3 linked regions of the Homo sapiens genome follow. The protein of the gene in region 2 interacts with the protein of the main gene of each other region in a pairwise test. Each region holds a gene or a part of one and is shown on either strand. Other genes may lie near its edges.

Region 1 (7,028 bases), on a different chromosome or scaffold from region 2:
TTTGAGACGGAGTCTCACTCTGTCACCCAGGTTGGAGTACAGTGGCATGATCTCAGCTCACTGCAACCTCCACCTCCCAGGTTCAAGTGATTCTCCTGCCTCAGCTTCCTGAGTAGCTGGGACTACAAGTGTGCACCACCACAACCAGCTAATTTTTTTTTTTTTTTTGAGACGGAGTCTCGCTCTGTCGCCCAGGCTAGAGTGCAGTGGCATGATCTCGGCTCACTGCAAGCTCCGCCTCCCGGGTTCACGCCATTCTCCTGCCTCAGCCTCCCAAGTAGCTGGGACTACAGGCACCCGCCACCACACCCAGCTAAATTTTTTGTATTTTTAATAGAGACGGGGTTTCACCATGTTAGCCAGGAGGCCCGCCTCGGCCTCCCAAAGTGCTGGGATTACAAGCGTGAGCCACTGCGCCCGGCCTGTTTTTTTTTTTTTTTTTTTTTAATATTTTTGGTAGAGACAGGGTTTCACCATGTTGGCCAACGTGGTCTCGAACTCCTGACCTCAAGTCATCCGCCCGCCTTGGCCTCCCAAAGTGCTGGGATTAGAAGCATGAGCCACCATGCCCGGTCAGTTTTCCTTTTCTTCATAGGGGAAAATGCAGAAATGCTTCCTTAATTAAAATAAGTCTTATGAAAGCTTATCATTTTCACAGCCCCTAGGATGAATGAAATGTTTGCAAAAACAAAGGTAACTGAAAATCCAGAGGATGAAATCTCCAAATTCTAGGCCACCAGGAAAACTGTTGATTAGGAGCTTGAAAATAAGGAATGAATGAACTTATCTCTGAAAAGTGAGCCTGACCTCACTCCATTGTGGGAAGTATCCTCTTCCTCGGAATGCCAGCCTGAGCATTGTTCTTCCTCTGTCAACCCACCCACTCTACCACTTTACCCTGTAGAGCTCAAATACATGGAAACCAAAGAAAGTCTGCCTATCTAATACCCACTCCTCTATTCCCATCCCATGACACCATCTGCTGAGCCATACCACAGACACATACAACAAACACCAGGGGACAGGAAGGGCTAACCTCATACTTTGGAGCCTCAGTCCATGAGTCTAACTGAAAAGAGAAAGACAGTCCTCTGAAGTTGAGATGGAAGAGCTGCTCAGCGGAGTTGTACACTGTTGGGGGTGGGGGAGAAGAAAATAACATGGTTGACTGGCATCTGAAATGGCTAACATAAACCAGCCTGGCAGGGAGTAATGACTGACAACACCTTCCCTGTGGCTTGTTTCTAAACTGGCCTACTAGGTTGAAAACAAGGGGGAGGATGTTTCCTTCACACCCAAGTACCAACCCCACAATCCTATGGGAGCCTGACTCCAGGAAGTGGGGTGGGATGGCACTACCGGGCAGGTTTATTGCTATGAACTGCCACTGATGACCAGAGGAATCAGATGGACTTGGCTTACCTCCAGGATGGGTTGCGCCAAAAGACTGGTCAATCTGTTCAATGGTAGGAGCTATGGCCTGAGAATTAAAATGCACGCCACTGAAAAACAAAAATATTTTTTAATACTAGGCTTCACAAGATGGGCCCACAGATCATGTGAGATAGTAGCTGGGAGAGTTATTTTTAAGACACAGGCAGGTGAGTCTCTAATTATATCAAAATACAAAGCTTAATTAGAGAACTTTTAAATAAGAGCATTAATGAGGTCAGGAGAAGGTCAGTTCTCATGAGGCTGATATACAGAGTTGATCCTCTGGGGCTTTATGACACCAGTGACTCTTAAGAAAAGGGTAGAGAAGAGAAGCCACCAGACCCTGAGGTATGAAGGCCCCAGTAAAACTAAAAGACAACTAGAACCTGCAGGGGCCAGTGGTACCACACATTTGCTTGTCTACTCCTCTATCAGCAAAACTGCCTGAGCCTGCCCCAGGAATCAGGTCCTCTTCACACCCTCAAAAAGGGAAAGGGAAGCCAGTTAAGGAGACTTACTGAAAGGAGTATTCTATCGCTTGAACCCAGGAGGTGGAGGTTACAGTGAGCTGAGATGGCGCCACTGCACACCAGCCTGGGTGACAGAGAGAGACTCCGTCTCAAAAAAAAAAAAGAAAGAAAGAAAGAAAGGAAGGAGTATTCTAGATTTTTAGATGCAGGCATGCTGCCTTGCCATAATGGGGGCGCAACAACTTTGGACTGTGCATGTCATCCCCGCTGTAATTCTAAAAAATACATTATAGCTCTAAAATGGTGGTCTCTTTGGCATTCTCTTCAGCATAGGCTTTGGAGTCAGACCTATCTGGTTTGTCCCACCTCTGTTACTCATGAAAACATGAAAAGAGGTGCCAAGAGAGGCTGTCAGCGGGAGGGCAGCTATGACCCAGGAGACTGTCACATCACCTCTGAGCTGAGGTCTGGCTTTGTCAAGTGGATTAAGTTAGATGACATATACATGAAGTGTTAAACACATCACATATTCTTAATGAGGTTTACTTCTCTTCTCCAGGAAACTGAGCAGGCTTGAAGGTTGCCTCAGGAATTCATGGCACCAGGCTATAATTCACATCTGTGACAGATGTGAATCTTTACTAACTTATGAAGATAGTAGATATGGCCTGTCTATACCAAGTGTGACATATACCAGCAGGGGAGAAAACTTACCAATATTTTAACTTTACTTTAGTCAAATCACATACTTCGATCACCTAAAAAAAAGTTTAAGAGTTGTCAATGCTCTGAAAGTGATGACAGACTAAAAATGATTAAAAATACATTTATAGAATAAATAGTAAAAAAAAAAAAAAAAAAAACTATTACCAATAGAAATTTTATGGAAGCACTGCATGTTATCTTTTGTTCTCATTTAAAATTTTTTTAAAAACTTTTTGTAGAGATAGAATCTTAGCAAAACTAAAAAACTATGTTGCCCAGGCTGGTCTCAAACTCCTGGGCTCAAATGATCCTCCTGTCTTAGCCTCCCAAAGTGCTGGGATTACAAGCATGAGCCACCATGACAGTCCTTTGTTATTTTGAAACCAGGGAAAAAACCAGTTTCCCCTTCAGCATAACCATAGCCAGTGTCCCCTTCAGCATAACCTCTTAGCTTCCCTCTCCTAGTGGACTGCTCAACAGATGTCCATGGATGCTCTGGGTCAAGGCTCTTACATGCAGTCCACTTCTGGGTCAGGCTGGAGCACACACCACCCTATAGGACAATGATCTCTTCCACAGACATGAAGCTTGTTAAGGCTCTGCTTTGGGCACTAAGCCCCCTTCCTCCCATCTCATATTTTGCTGCATTTTAAAACCCAGGTCGGGTTGCTTTAGAAAATAGCTTATTTTAGCCGGGCACGGTGGCTCACGCCTATAATCCCAGCACTTTGGGAGGCCCAGGTAGGTGGATCTCCTGAGGTCAGGAGTTCCAGACCAGCCTGACCAACATGGTGAAATCCTGTCTCTACCAAAAATACAAAAATTAGCTGGGCGTGGTGGCACACACCTGTAATCCCAGCTACTGTGGAGGCTGAGGCAGGAGAACCGCTTGAACCCAGGAGTTGGAGGTAGCAGTGAGCTGAGATTGCGCCACTGCACTCCAGCCTGGGTGACAGAGCGAGACTCCGTCTCAAAAAAAAAAAAAAAAAAAAGGCCGGGCACGGTGGCTCACGCCTATAATCCCAGCACTTTGGGAGGCCGAGGCGGGCGGATCACAAGGTCAGGAGATTGAGACCATCCTGGCTAACACGGTGAAACCGTGTCTCTACTGAAAAATACAAAAAATTAGCCAGGCGTGGTGGTGGGCGCCTGTAGTCCCAGCTACTGAGGAGGCTGAGGCAGGAGAATGGCGTGAACCCGGGAGGCAGAGCTTGCAGTGAGCGGAGATTGCGCCACTGCACCCCAGCCTGGGCGACAGAGCGAGACTCCTCCAAAAGAAAGAAAGAAAGAAAGAAAATAGCTTATTTTGAAGTTGATTTTGTTTACAAAACAAAAAGATGGAGGGGGAGGTCTATCCCATTAGAAAGCAAGCCATAATATTTGTCACACAAGTGTGACAGTATTCAGTTATGTCCCTGATGAAGAGGATCTGGTTGAAACAAGAAAGCCTCAGGACCTTTGTGAAGCTTGCTCTTTAATGGGTTCAGCCTCAGATGAAATTCTAAGAACTCAGGGCAGGGCAGAGATAAAGGAATAGGCATCACCTAACACTCCGCCATCAGTGGTGCCAAGTAATAAGCACTATGAAGTCCTCCATGCAATGGTGTCAAGGGCTTGGCAGCCAGCAGCACAGGTAGGGGCTCGGAGCACCATCTACCATCCTCCAGCTGGGAGGTTTTGCTCTCATTGTGGAGACACAAGCAGAGCTGGCTCAATATCTGTTTGTCCTGCCAATCTGAGCCTGATTGTGGAAGAGGCTGTGGGGCATTGTATGCAGGAACATCTGGCACTGCCAAAGAAACTGAGACATAATAGATAGTAGGTTCGCTTTTGGCCAGAGACCCTATCCCTAACTTTATTTAGAGACCACAACACTGAACCAAATTGGATACCTCTTGACTATAATGTAGCTCTTTTGATCCTATCTGCTAGAAAGAACTGCTCCCTCTGCTAGGCCGTCACAGCACTGGAATGAATCCTTTCCTCCATACTTGTGTATTCTGTTAAGTGGTCCAATAAGTTAAGCCCCTTGAGGGACTCATTAATTTGCATAGGGAAGGTGTTCAATTCATGTTAGGCAATTCTGCCTGGTATGAAGCTTGAAAGCATGAAAAGAAGTGCCAGGAGGGGCTGTGGAAGGAAGGGCAGGGGAACAGCTATGATTCAGAAGATAGCCAGTGTCCCCTTCAGAATATCTGGGCATGGGAATATATCATGCCAAACTGGCATGCCATTTCACTGAGGCCAGAGCCTTGTCTAGCAGAGAGCCTCTACCTTCAGCCAGAAGCCCTCCTGTTCATAGCAGGCACAGGCACTCACCTCCCTCACTTCTATCCCTACAGCTGGCCAGTCATCCCCCAAAGCTTCCCACCACCCGCCCTGTGGAAGTGAGCCTGCACGATGTTCCTCCTGTATCACTGGCACCCCACCTGCCAACAGCTATACGGGTCCAACACATATAGGTGCTTCGACCCTGCCTGATCAATGGGAAAACAGTGGACCAGAGCTAATCACAGGGCACGAAGCAGCACTTGTGGCAATGGACCCAGAGTGCTGGCCATCCTGGAGTCCTTCATGTCACTAGGAGCATCAATAAGCAGATTTCATCTCTTGGAGCTTGCTGCACTACAGGGACAAGCAGCTGGGAAGGCTAAAGCCCATGATTTTCCATCTCTGGGCTACAGAAGCTCCTGATTTCCCCAGAGGGGAAGAGATGTGGCAGCAGCCAAGATAAAAATGGAAAAGACAGGTGGCTGTAAAGGTTGTGACTTATAAAGCCTCATTCCACAGGGCTGTCTCTCTTAGGCTTGAGGCAGGGGGTGGGAAGCAACTATAGGAGGCAGCATCAGAAGAGGTGGATTCTGAAGGTGTTGGATGGAAGGGCAGGAAGATAGGTCAGGTCAGGCTGGTGCCAATCAAAAACACCTGGGTGATTACTTGCTCAGTTTCCAGAAGACTCAGGCAGGACCCCAGTCTCTCCTTCATGGGGATCCCACAGAAGGCAGAAGAGGATTGCCGGTTTGATTTTATCTCCTTTCCTATCCAAAGGTACCTCCCATTCCTCATATTTCTGTACATTTCTTCAGCTTTTCTTATTTATTTCCCAGATCCATCAACAGAGCCTAAGTGGTCAGCCACCACATATTGCCAATATCCAGTTAAAAGCCTGGCATCAGGTAGACTACTTATCCTCTCTGTCCCTCGGTTTTCTTGCTAGTAAACAGTACCTACTTCACAGGCGGGTTAGGATTAAACTAGAAAACGCATGTGAAACACCCAGCCATGTGCCTAGCATATACTAAGCACTCACTAAACATATGACATTGTCTTCACCATGCTGTGATTTTATGGGCTGCTGGACATCCCTTTTGTTGCCCATTTAGGTTACTTCCAGCTTCTCATTACCATGAAATACCGTTACCTTCCCCCAGTGTTTCTGGGTTACATTTTCTAAAGTGGACTTTTACCAAGTCAAAGGGAAATGACTACTTGTAAAGAAATTTCCATGTTACCAGATTAATTTCCCCCCAATTTTTTTTTTTTGAGACGGAGTCTTGCTCTGTTGCCCAGGCTGGAGTGCAGTGGTGCGATCTCAGCTCACTGCAAACTCTGCCTCCCGGGTTCACGCCATTCTCCTGCCTCAGCCTCCCAAGTAGCTGGGACTACAGGCGCCTGCCACCATGCCCAGCTAATTTTTTGTATTTTTAGTAGAGACGGGGTTTCACCGTGTTAGCCAGGATGGTCTCGATCTCCTGACCTCGTGATCCACCCGCCTCAGCCTCCCAAAGTGCTGGGATTACAGGCGTGAGCCACTGCACCCGGCTCCAATTTGTGATTATGCGATATTGAAGATCATCCTCTGCCCTTTCCCAGTGTGGAACTTCTGGCCATGGAGACAGGATAGAATGAGGAATTCTAATTCCACATACTGATTCTCTTTCCATGTTTTGTTTTCTCTCCTTAGCAGTTCACTTGTGACAAGGATGATGAGAACTGGTAAGTACCCAAGTCTTTTGGAAAGGCTACTCCATAACCCAAGAAGGACAACAACTCTGGCATGCCACTGCCCAGGGCCCATCCAACCTCATGACTTTGAGGCATGACTCTGGTGTCACATGACTAACCTGTGAGGCCCAGGCATTTGTAAACAGGGTATATCAAAAACAGACTGAACTGGGTGCGGTGGCTCATGCCTGTAATCCCAGCACTTTGGGAGGCCGAGGCGGGCGGATCACGAGGTCAAGAGATCAAGACCAGCCTGGCCAACATGGTGAAACAAAAAATTAGCTGGGCGTAGTGGCACGCACCTGTAGTCCCAGCTACTGAGGAGGCTGAGGCAGGAGAATTGCTTAAACCCGGGAGGCAGAGGTTGCAGTGAGCCAAGATTGCACCACTTCACGCCAGCCTGGGTGACACAGT
Region 2 (5,445 bases):
CTTCAAAGGCTCTTATTAAGTCTTTAGCGGTCTCAGACTGTTGCTGCTATAAGCCTCCTAGAAGTATTTATGCAGAGTAAAACATAAATTTCCTCTGCCAAACAGAATCAGAGGGGAATATATGAGATCATCCATGAGTACATATGGTAACTGTTCCCTCTAGGTCAAATACTCTGGGAAGAAAGGCCAAGCTGGTTTTAGAAAAAGTATTGGCTTCTCAGACTTTTTTCAGTATTTTCTAGCTCCACAATATGTTTCTCCAGGAAATGAGTTGCCAATCCAGTCCAGGATTGCAAACAAAACCCAGGGAAGACTGGCTGAGCTAAGGCTGCTGTCTGACTGTGGAGTAGAGGCAACAAGAAAAGAGGAGGCAGAAGTTGGGGCAGGGAGTTTGAGGGAAAGATGCATCAAGATCTAATTTGAGGAAAAAAAAAAAAGATCTGATTTGACTGCTATACTTGCAAATTCGATCAAGACACCCCTGGGGCACCCAGCATGAGAATAGGGTAACATGGACAAAATGTTGTTTATTGAATCCATTTTGGAAACAGACAACATGAAAGGTTTCTGTGAGCTCACTTGAAGAGTCATGATTGCTTCCTGTCATCAAATGTCAACCATAAGAAAATCCTAGCATAAATAATGAAAATGAATCTAGGAGAGAAAAAGTGGTTAAGGACACCTCAGCTCTCACTCCAATAGCTCTCTGATAGCTAACATGACCATAAACATCAATAAAATTTTTTATAGGTACAGTCTATTTACTGCACAAATATCAAATGTGTACATCGATGGTAAAAAGTTGTAAACTGGCTAACAGTCATCAGCACTTAAGTACACTGGGTCTATACTGACACTTCCATTCTCATTTTAAGAGCTTATATATTTAATTGATGACTGCTCTCCTCATCAGGGACATTTAAGATATGGAAAAGGCATTTATATACACACGCACGCATGCACATATGCTTAACCTTACAAACTGAAAAAGTAAGCCCAAGCATGATTAATTAATTACTTTGCCTGGATCAATAAATACTAGTCTCAAATGTTAAGTGTACTAATAAGGACAGAAGCTATCAGTTACATAAATTATCATGTTGCTACCTACTGATGCTCCATTTGCTAATGCATGTTAGTCAGTCTGTAGACTTTATCCAACACATACATAGAGATTATTTTTTTGTTTGTTTGAAACTCTCAGCAGATCAGCAGATCTCTTTTGGACATTTCTCTCCCATCACTCTTAGGATGAAAATGAAATAACTCTTAAAATAAAATTTCTAAATTCCCAGCCATCAAGAGCACAATTCTAATCAATCATATTTCAAATCTTCACTCAGAAGGGAAATGCCATCAAGAGTTACATAATGAGAAGGTCTCATCACCGTGGCAGCTTAGACTGATCTTCACCTTCTCCCAGCACCCTCTTGCCATATTGGAAGCCAAGGTGGCTCATCTCTTTGAGATTTCATAAATACCAACAGGAAGGGTCAGAGGGGGAGCCTTGTCTTTTTTTCTGGAGCTGTTATCAGTGAGACCGACAACTACAAAGAGGAGGATAGGGATTCAAGGTGGATAAAAGCCCCCAGACCTGGAGGGAGCAGTAGAAGGATGCAGCACCGTGCCAAGGCCTGCTGCCCCCAAGTGCTTCACATGCTAGAAATTCTCAGCATTTCTTTAACCACAGAGAATAAACATCCTTCCAAAAGGTCCTGCCCACATCTCCCCTCTCTCCCAGCACTGTAAAGCATGGAAACATTCCATTTTCCATGCTTCCTGGAGAATCCTCTGCCTATGAGGCAAACTGGGTCTCCCCACCCCAATGCAGCTTTTCCTAGAAACCATGAAATTTACGAATTTACACAAGCCATTGTGGGTTCAAGTCCAGCTGCTTCTAGAGCTCTGTGACCTAACAGCCCTGCCCACCATGGATCTCTTTATCCTGAACCACTTCCAGTCTCTTTTCCCAGGAGCTCTGCTTGTGTTTTTAGTGTGAAGACTCACCCCACTGAAAATGAACAGTGCAAGATCCTATGTGCAAAATTTGCAAACATTTTTTTTTTTAAACGATACACATTTTAAAAATTCAAGTCAAATCCAGATAGATAGATACAGGCCAGTTGGTTGGTATCAGCTGGCCCCTCATACCCACCATAGGAAAGCATGATGAGAAAGTCCGTTTCTGAAATGAGAGAGACAAGAGGCACCAGCTTCTTATCTGGGGGTGAGTTCCTTGAGCTTGAGAGGAAGCCTGAGAGGGAAATGCTAAGGCTCAATGAAAGACAGGGCAGCTCCAGCCTCGCGGCCCTCCTGGGTCAAAAGCCAAAGGCCTCTGTGCAAGCAGCACATAGGATCTGGATGTAGGTTGAGGATAGATCCTCACCCACCAGTGGGGTAACTTTCCCAGCAATTCTGAAACTAAAATAAGGAAGGCACATTCCCAGAGCCCTGCTGAGTAGGGGCTTCAGGCTATTTTCACTCTACACAAAATGGGGGAGAGGAGTTCCCTCTCCACTAATTTTTCACCCATAAACCTCCACATCACTAGGAACCTAAAGGGGAACTCCAAAGGCCAACACATCCTTGGTGGTTATATGTGTTGTCCTGACAACCTCCTGCTCCAGAAATGCCAGGAGCATTGGATATGTCATTGGGAGCATCAGGCAGTCCAACATCGGAGGGAGAAAGGCCCAGAGATGAGGATCTGAGTCAGGCTGGCAAGGCTGGAGTCAGAAAGTGACCATTAGGCAACTGGTCACTACAATTGGTGGCTACAAAGAAGTGGTCACAGTCACCAAAATAAAGAGGTTTACAACAACGGTTTCCCCTTAGGTCATTTTGACCAGGACAGTACCCTAAAGGAAATAAGGCAGCATCGCATAAAGCAAGAGCCCCCCTCAGTAATCCACGGAGATGGAGGGGTCCTCATCCTGGTTGCAAAACAGGAGATGGAAAGGCCCAGGGGTGGCGACTCAGCTGAGGGAAGCACAGTTCAGCTCCGAGCCCTCCTGGCTGCCCCTGGCCCCCTCCTCCAGTCCGTCAGGGTTGTCAGTGATGTTGGGCTCACTGGAGCACTGCCGGTGGGGCGGGGGGAAGCTGGGTGGCAGGAGCAGGCACTTGTTCTCACTGCTGGCCTCCTCCCCCAGGCCCGAGTGCATCATGGTGGCCATGGCCAGCAGCTGGATGTCCGAGTGGGCATTGGCCACCGTGTGCCGCCGCACGCTGCCACACTTCTCCAGGTAGGCTTCCCCCTCCTGCTCTGTCAGTGGGGTCAAGACCATCTCATTCAGTGGCCGGCTGACTGCGGTTATCGGGGAGGCATAGTTCAGGACAGTCACCTTGGGCCGGACCCTGGAGTGCCGCCTGGCTGCAAGAGAAAAATCAGCAAAGACTGTTATTGGGGAGGGGGTATTGGTGCTTAAAAGCTCCTAATCCAACTGGGGGAAAAGAACAAGGTGCTCAACCTTTAGGAGCAGCTCTTAGGTGCAGCCCTGCCACAATGCAAGGGAGGAATCTGGTGATACCTAAATGTTTCTCTTGCAACTTTACCTGTTTATGCCAGATCCTGCCTGTAACCAACCCTACCCCACATATTAGGTGGTCACCAACAGACTTTCCTTGACAGATAAGAGTCAAGGGAATCTGGTGTGTTTTTCAGCTGCTGCCTGAGCTTCATTGGGTTTGCCCTAAAATTCCCTTTCAATCAATGTCCTCTGAGGACCTGAGCATTCCAAAAGAAGCACCCTGGCTTCCTGCAGGAGTGGCCTCTCCCATGCCAACAGGTGATATAAAAGAGTCTTCCTAAGCTGAAATCCAGAGGAAGAGATAACTGGGGAGTTACCTCAGTTGTCAAACCCAAGGTAGCAGGACTATCTTGCAAATCATACAGAACCACGACTATCAATGGCCCTCATCTCCTGCCAGGTGAAGGGTCTCAGACCTATGTTCTGTTCAAGTCAATTCTCCTGGACTCAAACAGCCTTTAGCATCATCAAAGAACAGGCTAGGTTCCATGGATCACCCCAAGGAGGCAGACACAGGAAGGCTGGATACTAATTATAAAACTGCTGCTTTTTGTTTTTTTTTTGAGACAGTTTTGCTCTTGTTACCCAGGCTGGAGTGCAGTGGTGTGATCTCAGCTCACTGCAACCTCCGCTTCCCAGGTTCAAGTGATTCTCCCACCTCAGCCTCCTGAGTTGCTGGGACTACAGGCGCCCACCACCATGCCCAGCTAATTTTTGTATTTTTACTAGAGACGGGGTTTCACCATGTTGGCCAGGGTGGTCCTGAACTCCTGACCTCAGGTGATCCACCCGCCTCAGCCTCCCAAAGTGCTGGGATTAAAGGTGTGAGCCACCACGTCCGGCCTAAACTGCTGCTTTTGAATTCTCATCATGTTCCAAAAACTGTGCTAAACCTAGACATTTTATCTTTTGAATCCCCCCCAAAACTGAACCTAAGTCATGGTATTGTATCAGTTTCCACTTTCCAGATGAGAAAACTGAGTCTCAGAGAGGGAATAGCTTACCCAAGGTCATATAGATAGAAGGTAGTTTAAGCTGGGACTCAAACAAGGTCTGTCTCTCTCCAGACCCTTGCTCTTCTAGCTGCCCATCCAAGGCCCACAGATAACTAGGGTAGGTGAAATACCTTAAGGGAAGGATGAGCCAAGTGGAGGGGCTTCAAGGGCCAGAAAAAGCATGCCCATCTGGAGATAGGAAACTTGCCTGGAGGATGTACACTGGAGATGGACCTTTAGGATGGCAGAACTCCCAGAAGCGGTAAAGGGGTGACAGAGTTCTGAGCAATGGCAGCAGCCTGAGAAAGCTGCTGAGACAGGTGCACCATCAGGTCACAGCCTGGCTGGAACAGACTCCAGGAGAGGTGCCCCGGCAGGCAGATGGAAGCACCTGTGGTACCAGGTCACAGCACAGCTGCGGGGACGCAGTTAACATCGAAGGTCATAGGGCAAGATGGACTGTGCTCAGGAAGCTTCCTTGGGCAGAAGTGTGGCAGAATGGGCTGGAGCCAGCGAGGCCAGCAGCGAGGAAAGCCAGGGAGAAGGCTCAGGTATTATATTCCATAATAAATAGGGATCGCATGTGAAAAAAGGTAATGCTAACATCAGTGTCAAAGTGAGAGGTGATCAGGAAAGGAAGTGGAGTTGTGGTGATGACAGTAAGGTGAGGATGACCGCTAGAGACACCACAGAGATACTACAGAGATACTACAGAACCCCACAACTAAGAGATCATGGGAGCGGGGCAGGGAGGAGGAGCTGTGGGACAGAACAAAGGAACGGCAGACTTGGGGGAGGGGCGAAGGATGGGGAGGATGCAGAGGAGGCAGCTTGTGAGACCCAGCGCCGGGTCCTGGCCACATCGCGTCTGAGATGCTGAAGGGGCAACCTCCACCGGCTGACAGACATGCAGTTTTGAGCTG
Region 3 (7,991 bases), on a different chromosome or scaffold from region 2:
CGCCCAGCTAATTTTTGTATTTTTAGTAGAGACGGAGTTTCACCATGTTGACCAGGATGGTCTCAATCTCCTGACCTCGTGAGCTGCCCACCTCGGCCTCCCAAAGTGCTGGGATTACAAGTCTGAGCCACTGCGCCCAGCTGGTAATTTCTTTTAAGGTTAAACATGCACTTGCACACGGCCCAAGAATTCCATTCCTAGATGTGTAACCAAAAGAAATGAAAACATATGTCTACACAAAGACTTGCACCTTAATGTACAAAGAACAGCACATGAATGTTTACAGTACCTTCATTCCTAAATGCCAAAAATTGTTCATCAAATGGCGAATAAACATACTATGATATATTCACACAATGAAATACTACTCAGCTGTAAAAAACAACCAAGCATCAACAAACATGCATCAACATGGATGAATCAAAGCATTAAGTGAAAGAAACCTGAAACATAAGGCTACATACTGTATGATTCCATTTACATAACATACCAGAAAAGACAAAGCTATAGACAGGGACAGAGAACAGATCAGTGGTTGCTAGGACCTATGAGTGAGGGGAGGAAACTTTAGAATGATGGGAATATTATTTGTCTGGATTGTGGCAGTGGTTCCATTATATGCATTTGTCAGACTTTATACAGCAATATAATAAAAATTACTTTTTTACTTATAAATCATACCTCAATAAAACTTGATTTTTTTTAAAAAAAGCAACATATGCCCTTTTTAAAAATATGCATCAGTTTAAATGAGCTAAACCAAACTTACTGGGTATGGGAATAGGGCAGGGAGGAACAGTAAGGAGACCAAAAATCCTTAAAATACTGGAAATCTAAAATATTAATTTATCGTTAGTAAATAAGAAACAGATATACATAAACACCAAGAGTTAATCCAAAGAGAGATGCCTTTTTCAATTAAGTTCTCATTGTTTGGACAGAAAATAAGAAAATTTGATAAACTTTCAAGGAAGATTAAAAATCACAAGGAACAGGTTGACAAAGGAGTGCTGTAATTATGACCTACAGTTTGGGAACAACTTATCTAAAACATTCCCCTTCCATTTTACTTAATGGAACCAGTCTTATCCACCCATCCACTCTACTCCACTCCCACTCCGTCTTCTACTATCTTCATTCATAACAATCATATGTAATGCATACATCTGACACATATAGATAAGAGTACAACATAAAATGCCTATTACACCAAATTCCTGTTTGTCCATTTAAGCTCCAGACAAGCTCATTTTTAAACGTCTTTTTTCTCTATTTTAATGCCACCCAAAACCAAAGTGATGTCCCTCTGGAATGATTTTCTGCAGTTTCTTTTGTGTGTTATTAAGTACTAAGATGATCAAAATAAACAAAAATGTCTCAGAAGTTTTGAGTGGATCACTCCAATAAGAAGCTACATTTTTCCATTTAATAAAAGTTAAGAGGTAAGTTGTAACTTTCATCACTTTGTTTTCTTTATGTTTATTCCATTGGGCTTATACTGTTGCTAGGAAACCAGTTCATAAGATTTCCCAGCCCACAGAACACCCTCCTAGGCAGCCTGGAGGATACCAAACTTCGTAACCAGGGCAATTCTCTACCACACAGTTTACTGGTTAGCCAACACCATGCAGGTGCACTCTGCCTGGCATGACCCTTACTACATTTACCTAATAGGTACAGACAGTATAACCAATCCCCTCAACGCAATAGAAATTGTAGCAGAGGGCAATCAGGTGATCATTAAGTGTAGAACTCTCCGACAGCAGGGAACACAACAGCGAATTTGTTGTCAGTCCCTGTCACCCCACCCAACTAAATATTGTGGGGGGGGGAAGGGTTGCCTTAAATTGTGAAGTAAAATGTCAGCCCACTCCAATAACTCCACCACGCAACATGCAAACTGCTTCCAAAAACCATCATCCAACTCCCACCCGGATTAATATTTGGAGAGAAAGGTGGCATCAGTATCCGCACAGCTGAGAGGGGAGGGAAGGAAAGAGTCAGAATTCATAAGGGGCCGCTGAGTCACCTAAAATTGTGGCCAAGACTTTACCCTCCAGGAAATCGAGCTCTGCCCCAACTCTCATCAAGGAAGCAAGTGAGAGTAGCAGCAGCAACATCATCCTACCAAAAAAACACCAGCGCAGCTTTTAATAGAGTTCCACTCCTTAAAGTGAAGCCAAAAATAGGTTTCATGTCCAAAGCTTTCCTCCGCAGTAGGCGACACGCGCAGATGGAGAAAATATCTTTATTGTTGGGAAAGGGAGGCGTGCTAACGGGGACGAAGGATACCTCACCACTTGGCAAAGTTACTGGCTCCTGCCTTGACCCTGAAATGCCACTTTTATTGCAACATGTGGCCCAAGAAACTCTAAGGAAATGTGGCTGGCAGACGCTGTAGAGCTTTTACCCCAATGTACTTGGCAAAGTAAAAGGGGATACATAAACCAGGCGCGTTCTGTGTAATCTAAGCAAGAATCAAGGTCTCCGTTCGGTAGGCGCTTCGGTGACACAATAATCACGTGTTCGTGGGCGTAGACTTTCGAAAACACTCGATTCTGGGACGTGCAGATACCGGTACCCACCGGCGAGCGCAGGAACGAGTGGGCACTCCCACCCCCGGGAGCTGGCTCCGTTCCCGCAGGAGGTTGGTCACGCCCCCTGACTCCTGGTCGCTGCGACAGCCAAGGGCGAGGCCGCAGCAGGCGGGCTGCAGGCGGCGGAAGCTCGTCCGCGCTCCTCCCCCGGTGGGGCGCTCTCCGCTCGCCTCGCGCGGCCCCGACCCCAAGACCCAGGCCCCGGAAGGCGAGCGTTCACTTACCTGCTCCCCTCTCTCGCTCTCCGCTGCCGCCGCTGCGCCGCTCACCCACGCTGCCCGGTGAGCCACCCCCAGCACACAGACCCCTACGCGTACACCCGAGGCACGGCCCCAGGCCCTTGAGGGGAGACCGCGGCCCAGCCACACAGGTTGGGGTAGCCCACGCACCACCCGGCTTCGAACACCTCTGCCCCCGGAAGTTGATTTCCGCCAAGGCCCGCCCAACACAGCGCCCGTCACTCAACGTAAACACGCGCGTCACGTGGCCCCAGGCCGAGGCCCGGGTCGGGGCCCCATGTTCAGAGCCCTGCCACCCCAGCTTGAGCGTGGTCTTTGGAGCGTTGCCCTGTGAAAAGGGGTGACTTTGCCATGCTCCTTCCCAGTCTACCTCCTGTTAGTTACAGTTTCTCATTCCTCTTGAGTAGCAGGCCCTGTTTCTCCACCTAATCCCTGCAAGTAAACCGTCCCCCAAATCAAAATGAGTTCCATCTGGAACTTTGTAGGATTGGTCCTAAGAAGATCCCGCCGAATCTCTTCACCACTTCCTAGCAGAGCACAGTAAAACCGGGGACTAAGCAAAGTGGCTGACATGTAGTAAGTGCTCAAGAAATGGATGTTGACTAGATGCTACCTCTCATCTTTGCCTGTCTGAACTCTCAAGCACCGGATGCAAGTAGACTGAGAGCCTCCGCCAACCAGTAAGATGACTTTGGTCAAAGAATTCTGCTCTAGAGTTACTTTTGTTCTTGTCTTCAACTCCAGATCACAGCAATTCATACGTGCCATCTCTGTTGCAGAGTTTTCTTGCAAAGCCTTTCTTAAAAGCTTTCTGTCAAATAGCTTGTCCTGAAGCAATAGGAAAAGAATAGCGTAATTCACAGATTATTTATTTGAAAGGAAGGAATGATTATATAGATGTCTTTGTCCATTTCAGACTGTCAATAGCGATGAGAGAAACAGTCAACTAGCAGTCCACTCGTGAATGTTTCTTCTGTTTTTGCCATGGAAGGATTTTGAAGAACATTCATTCAACAAATTTTTATTGATTGTATACCACATACCTAGTCCTGGGCCAAGTTTTGACAATTCAAGAGTGAGCAAGGTAACACTCAAGATATTTGTCTTCAAGAAGCTTACAGTCTAGTGAGAAAGAAAGACACTAACCTGGGGACTTTGAGCATAAATCTCTGGAATATTCACATTCCTTGTATAACAAGTATTCTTTCATCCTTGGACACTGGGTTTCTCATCTGTTGAACAAAATTGGCTTAAACCTGTAATCTCTGTTCTGTACTGGAAGTGGAAAATATTAGCAAGGCATCCTGACAAGTCTGCCATAAGTGCTGGCCTAAGTAGTTAATGAGCAGTTTCAGTATTGAGCAAGTCACCTTGACTACATTCTTTTTCCAGCCCACCCCCTTCTTTATGCATACAAAAAACATTTCTATTGTAAGAAATGTAATGCTTTCTTACACATATTTTTTTATCTGTCTACTAGACTACCAAGTCAAGGACCACTTCTCACTTGTATATCCAGCAATCTACTCACTTCTCATTTGTCTTTGTGTATCCAGCAGTCTAGCAAAGTGTCTAGTAGTTAGAAAAAAGGTATTCATAAATATTTCTTAAACTTAGTAAGGTTACCTTTATATTATTTTGTCTCTCATATCTCTTTCTGCTGGAAACCAGATTAGTTTCTGGGAGTTCCTTCCCATTGATGTACTTACATGTTCACTCTGTCCCGATATTCAATACTAAACTGTATTCCATACTAAACAGATTTATAATAAGTAACTAATATTTATTATTAATATTTGCTATGTGCCTGGCATTAGATTAAATATTTTAAATCCCATATATAACTTACCACAATAATTTTACAAAGTAGGTATATTAATATATTTACACTTTAGATGAGGTTACAGATTTAGGAAGTGTAAATTGACCAAGTGGATTTAAAGCCAGATCTGCCCAACAGAAGGGCTTGTTTATTCACTATAGCACATCACTTTGCTTTTTATATCACTTATTTATCAGTGAATTCAAATCCTACCAACTCCATGAAATCTTTCTTCCTTCCCCACAGTAATCTTTTTCTTTATAAACAATTCAGTGATTTTAGTATATTCACAGAGTTATGCATGCTTTACCACATTCGATTTTAGAGTATTTTCACAGCCCCAAAAAGAAACCCCATACCCTTTGGCCCCAACTTCTCCCTCCTCTCCCCAGCCCTAGGCAACCAGTAATCCACTTTCCGTCTGTATGCATTTGTCTATCTTGAACATTTCATATAAATGGAATCATGCAATGTGTGGTCTTTTGTGACTGGCTTCTTTCACTTAACATGTTTTCAAAGTCCCTTCATCGGTTGGGTTGTTTCAGCTTTTTGAATATTATGAATAATGCTCCTGTTGACATTCATGTACAAGTTTTCGTGTCAACATATGTTCTCATTTCTCTTGGATATATACCTAAGAGTGGAATTGCGGGGTCATATGGTAACTCTATGTTTAACCCCTTGTGGAACTACCACACTGTTTTCCAAAGTGGCTGTACCATTTTACTTTCTCACCAGCAATGTATGAGGGCTCTAATTTCTCTATTGTGCCTTTTCTTGTCTCTCTAGAACATGTGCCTCTCTTACTTTTCAGAATACTTTTTCCATGAGCCATCTTCAATTATTATTCTTTGTTGTACATGTATCTGCAAGCCCATTTTCCTAATAGTTTGTGACCTTCTGAGATGAAAAACATGGTGCCTGCCCTTAAGAGAATCACATCTAGAAAAATATACAATCAAATCAGATATTACAGTGATAATAAACACTGAAATAAAGGTTATTGCTAAAAGGTGGAGAAAGAACACCTCACTCAGCCTAGGTTAAACAGGAAGTACTTCTCATAGAATGTATCAAAGCTCAGGATTAGTCCTGAAGAATCTATTGGAATTGACCAAGCTAAGGAAAGACATGAGTATGCTCCAGAAAAAGGAACATATACCTTTGTATATATTTCCTTGTCTATGAACTGTGGAGGTAAGTATATTTTGCAGGTAAGCATACCATAGAAGCAAACATTGTGGTATGCAGGTATGCAGCAGGAGAAATGGGAAATGTAGATGTAAGATGATGAAGAGTTTTGTAAACTGTGTTAAGGAGTTTGAACTGTATCCTGAAGGTAATGGGAAATTGCTGAATTAGTTAAGCAAGGTTGGAGAAGAATTACTTCAGCAGCAGTATAGAGGAAGGATTATTGGGTAGGAGAGACGGGGCCAAGACTAGAAAAACAAACAAACCAGATAGAAGACATAAAATAACTAAAATGAGGAATTAATGACTGCCTGAGCCGAGATGGTACCCATGAAATTGGCAGAAAGGATTTTAAAGGCACATGGCCAACAAAAAAGGAGGAAAGAAGCCAGTCACGGTGGCTTATACGTGTAACCCCAGCAATGTGGGAGGCTGAGGTAGGAGGATCACTGGAGCCTGGGAGGTGGAGGCTGCAGTGAGCTGTGATTGTGCCACTGCATTCCAGCTGGATGACAGAGCAAGACCCTTTCAAAAAAAAAAAAAAAAGGAGGAGTAAGAAGAAGAAGAAAGAATTGAAGATATATTCCAGGTTTCTGGCTGTAGTCATCAAGAGGAAGATTGGGCACTTGGTGATAAGAATAATGAAACACTACAATGATGGTATCTTAGTTTGTTCAGGCTGCTATAGAAAAATACTGGGTAGCTTATGAATGCAAATTTATTTCTCACAGGTCTGGAGTCTAAGAAGTTCAAGATTAAGACACCAGCAGATTGGATGTCTAGTGGGGCCCTGCTTTCTGGGTCATAGATTGTGCCTTCTAGCTGTGTCCTCATGTGGTGGAAGAGACAGGGCGGCTCTCTGGAGCCTCTTTTATAAGGGCAGTAATCCTAGTCATGAGGCTTGTGTCCTCATGATTTAATCACCTCCCAAAGGCCCCACCTCCTAACGCTATCTCATTGGTGATTAAGTTTAACATATGAATTGTGGGGGGACAAAAACATTCAGACCACAGCAGATAGGTTGCAGGAATTTAAACTGCCATTGAAGTTTATGTGCTGTTGCAGTCACCCACAGAAATGAGATGAACCCTCACCCAAACTTTGGCTCCTATTTCAAGACTTAGCATACCACATATGCACCAACAGGGTATAAAAAGGTTTATTACTCACATAATGAGCCTTTCTAGGAAGAGTACAGCAGACCTCCTAAGCAGGTTTTAAAATGACTTGAGAGAGTAGGAGAAAAAGCTATTGGGATTTTTTTCATGGCTAGGACATGGCGCTTGGGTGAAAAAGCCCACACAGGGCAGGGACTGTATGGCTCAAATTTTCCACCAGCACCAAAATAGGAAATACCTATTTTGCACCATATTTGGATCTAGGCAAGCTTTCTCATCAAGTTGCCTAGATTCAGATATCATACAAAAGGGAACAGGTGAGGAGCCGGACTTAAAACTTGTTAAGAATCAAACATAAAAAATTATGTCAGACACAATTACATATTCTTAGATCTAGTTTAACTGCAACTAACAATATAGTTGTTACATATATATATGCTTTGAAAGTGATTATCATGGACACTGTAGTTGCAATCCCAACATTTATTCCACTCTTCCCACATTGTGCATAGTACACCTAAGAAATTGAGGTGAAATTAACCTCACCTTTATCTCCAAAGTTAGTCCAGTTAAGATAACCCAATCCCAACCTACGTTGTTCCCCTGGCCACAAGATGTTGTTCAGGGTTGAGCAAATTGGCACCAATTACAGGACTTTAGCCCCAAAATTGTGGGCTGTGGCTCCTTTCTCTCCCTTGATAAATGAGAAAGCATGTGGTTCTTGTTACTGAGGGCAGTCATCTTGTAACCAAGAAAATAAAAAAGCTGGAACCCTGATCAAATAAGCAAAGATTTATAACTTTGTATATAAGAAGAAGGACATAAACAGTAAACTGTGAAGGTTTTAAATAAACACTTTTCTGCCTCCTTCCTTTTAATCTACTGGTTTCTTCTGTTATGGCAGCTTTTAGGTCAAATTAATACAGAGCTTGATTTTTCTACTTACCCTCACTGGTACTGAATATTAGTTAAGTCAGTTTAAATTTGTTATTATTATACTTCACCTTAAAAGACTTTAGTGTAT

What was found. The genes of interacting proteins can lie anywhere in the genome.
Region 1: the proteins of PRR5L (region 2) and PHAF1 interact in binary tests that used the Homo sapiens proteins (3 or more experiments, as listed by UniProt).
Region 3: the proteins of PRR5L (region 2) and CCDC91 interact in binary tests that used the Homo sapiens proteins (3 or more experiments, as listed by UniProt).

What each region holds. Positions count from the first base shown.
Region 1 is NC_000016.10:67,126,920-67,133,947, reverse strand, and holds part of PHAF1 (phagosome assembly factor 1), read right to left. Parts: intron 2,663-7,028; coding exon 2,619-2,662; intron 1,503-2,618; coding exon 1,423-1,502; coding exon of another isoform or gene 1,132-1,422; coding exon 1,037-1,131; intron 1-1,036. UniProt on the Homo sapiens protein: Plays a regulatory role in autophagic activity. In complex with BCAS3, associates with the autophagosome formation site during both non-selective and selective autophagy.
Region 2 is NC_000011.10:36,460,267-36,465,711, reverse strand, and holds the end of PRR5L (proline-rich protein 5-like), read right to left. Parts: intron 3,371-5,445; coding exon 2,976-3,370; 3' UTR 508-2,975; downstream 1-507. UniProt on the Homo sapiens protein: Associates with the mTORC2 complex that regulates cellular processes including survival and organization of the cytoskeleton.
Region 3 is NC_000012.12:28,185,472-28,193,462, reverse strand, and holds the start of CCDC91 (coiled-coil domain-containing protein 91), read right to left. Parts: upstream 3,008-7,991; 5' UTR 2,822-3,007; exon of another isoform or gene 2,725-2,821; intron 1-2,724. UniProt on the Homo sapiens protein: Involved in the regulation of membrane traffic through the trans-Golgi network (TGN). Functions in close cooperation with the GGAs in the sorting of hydrolases to lysosomes.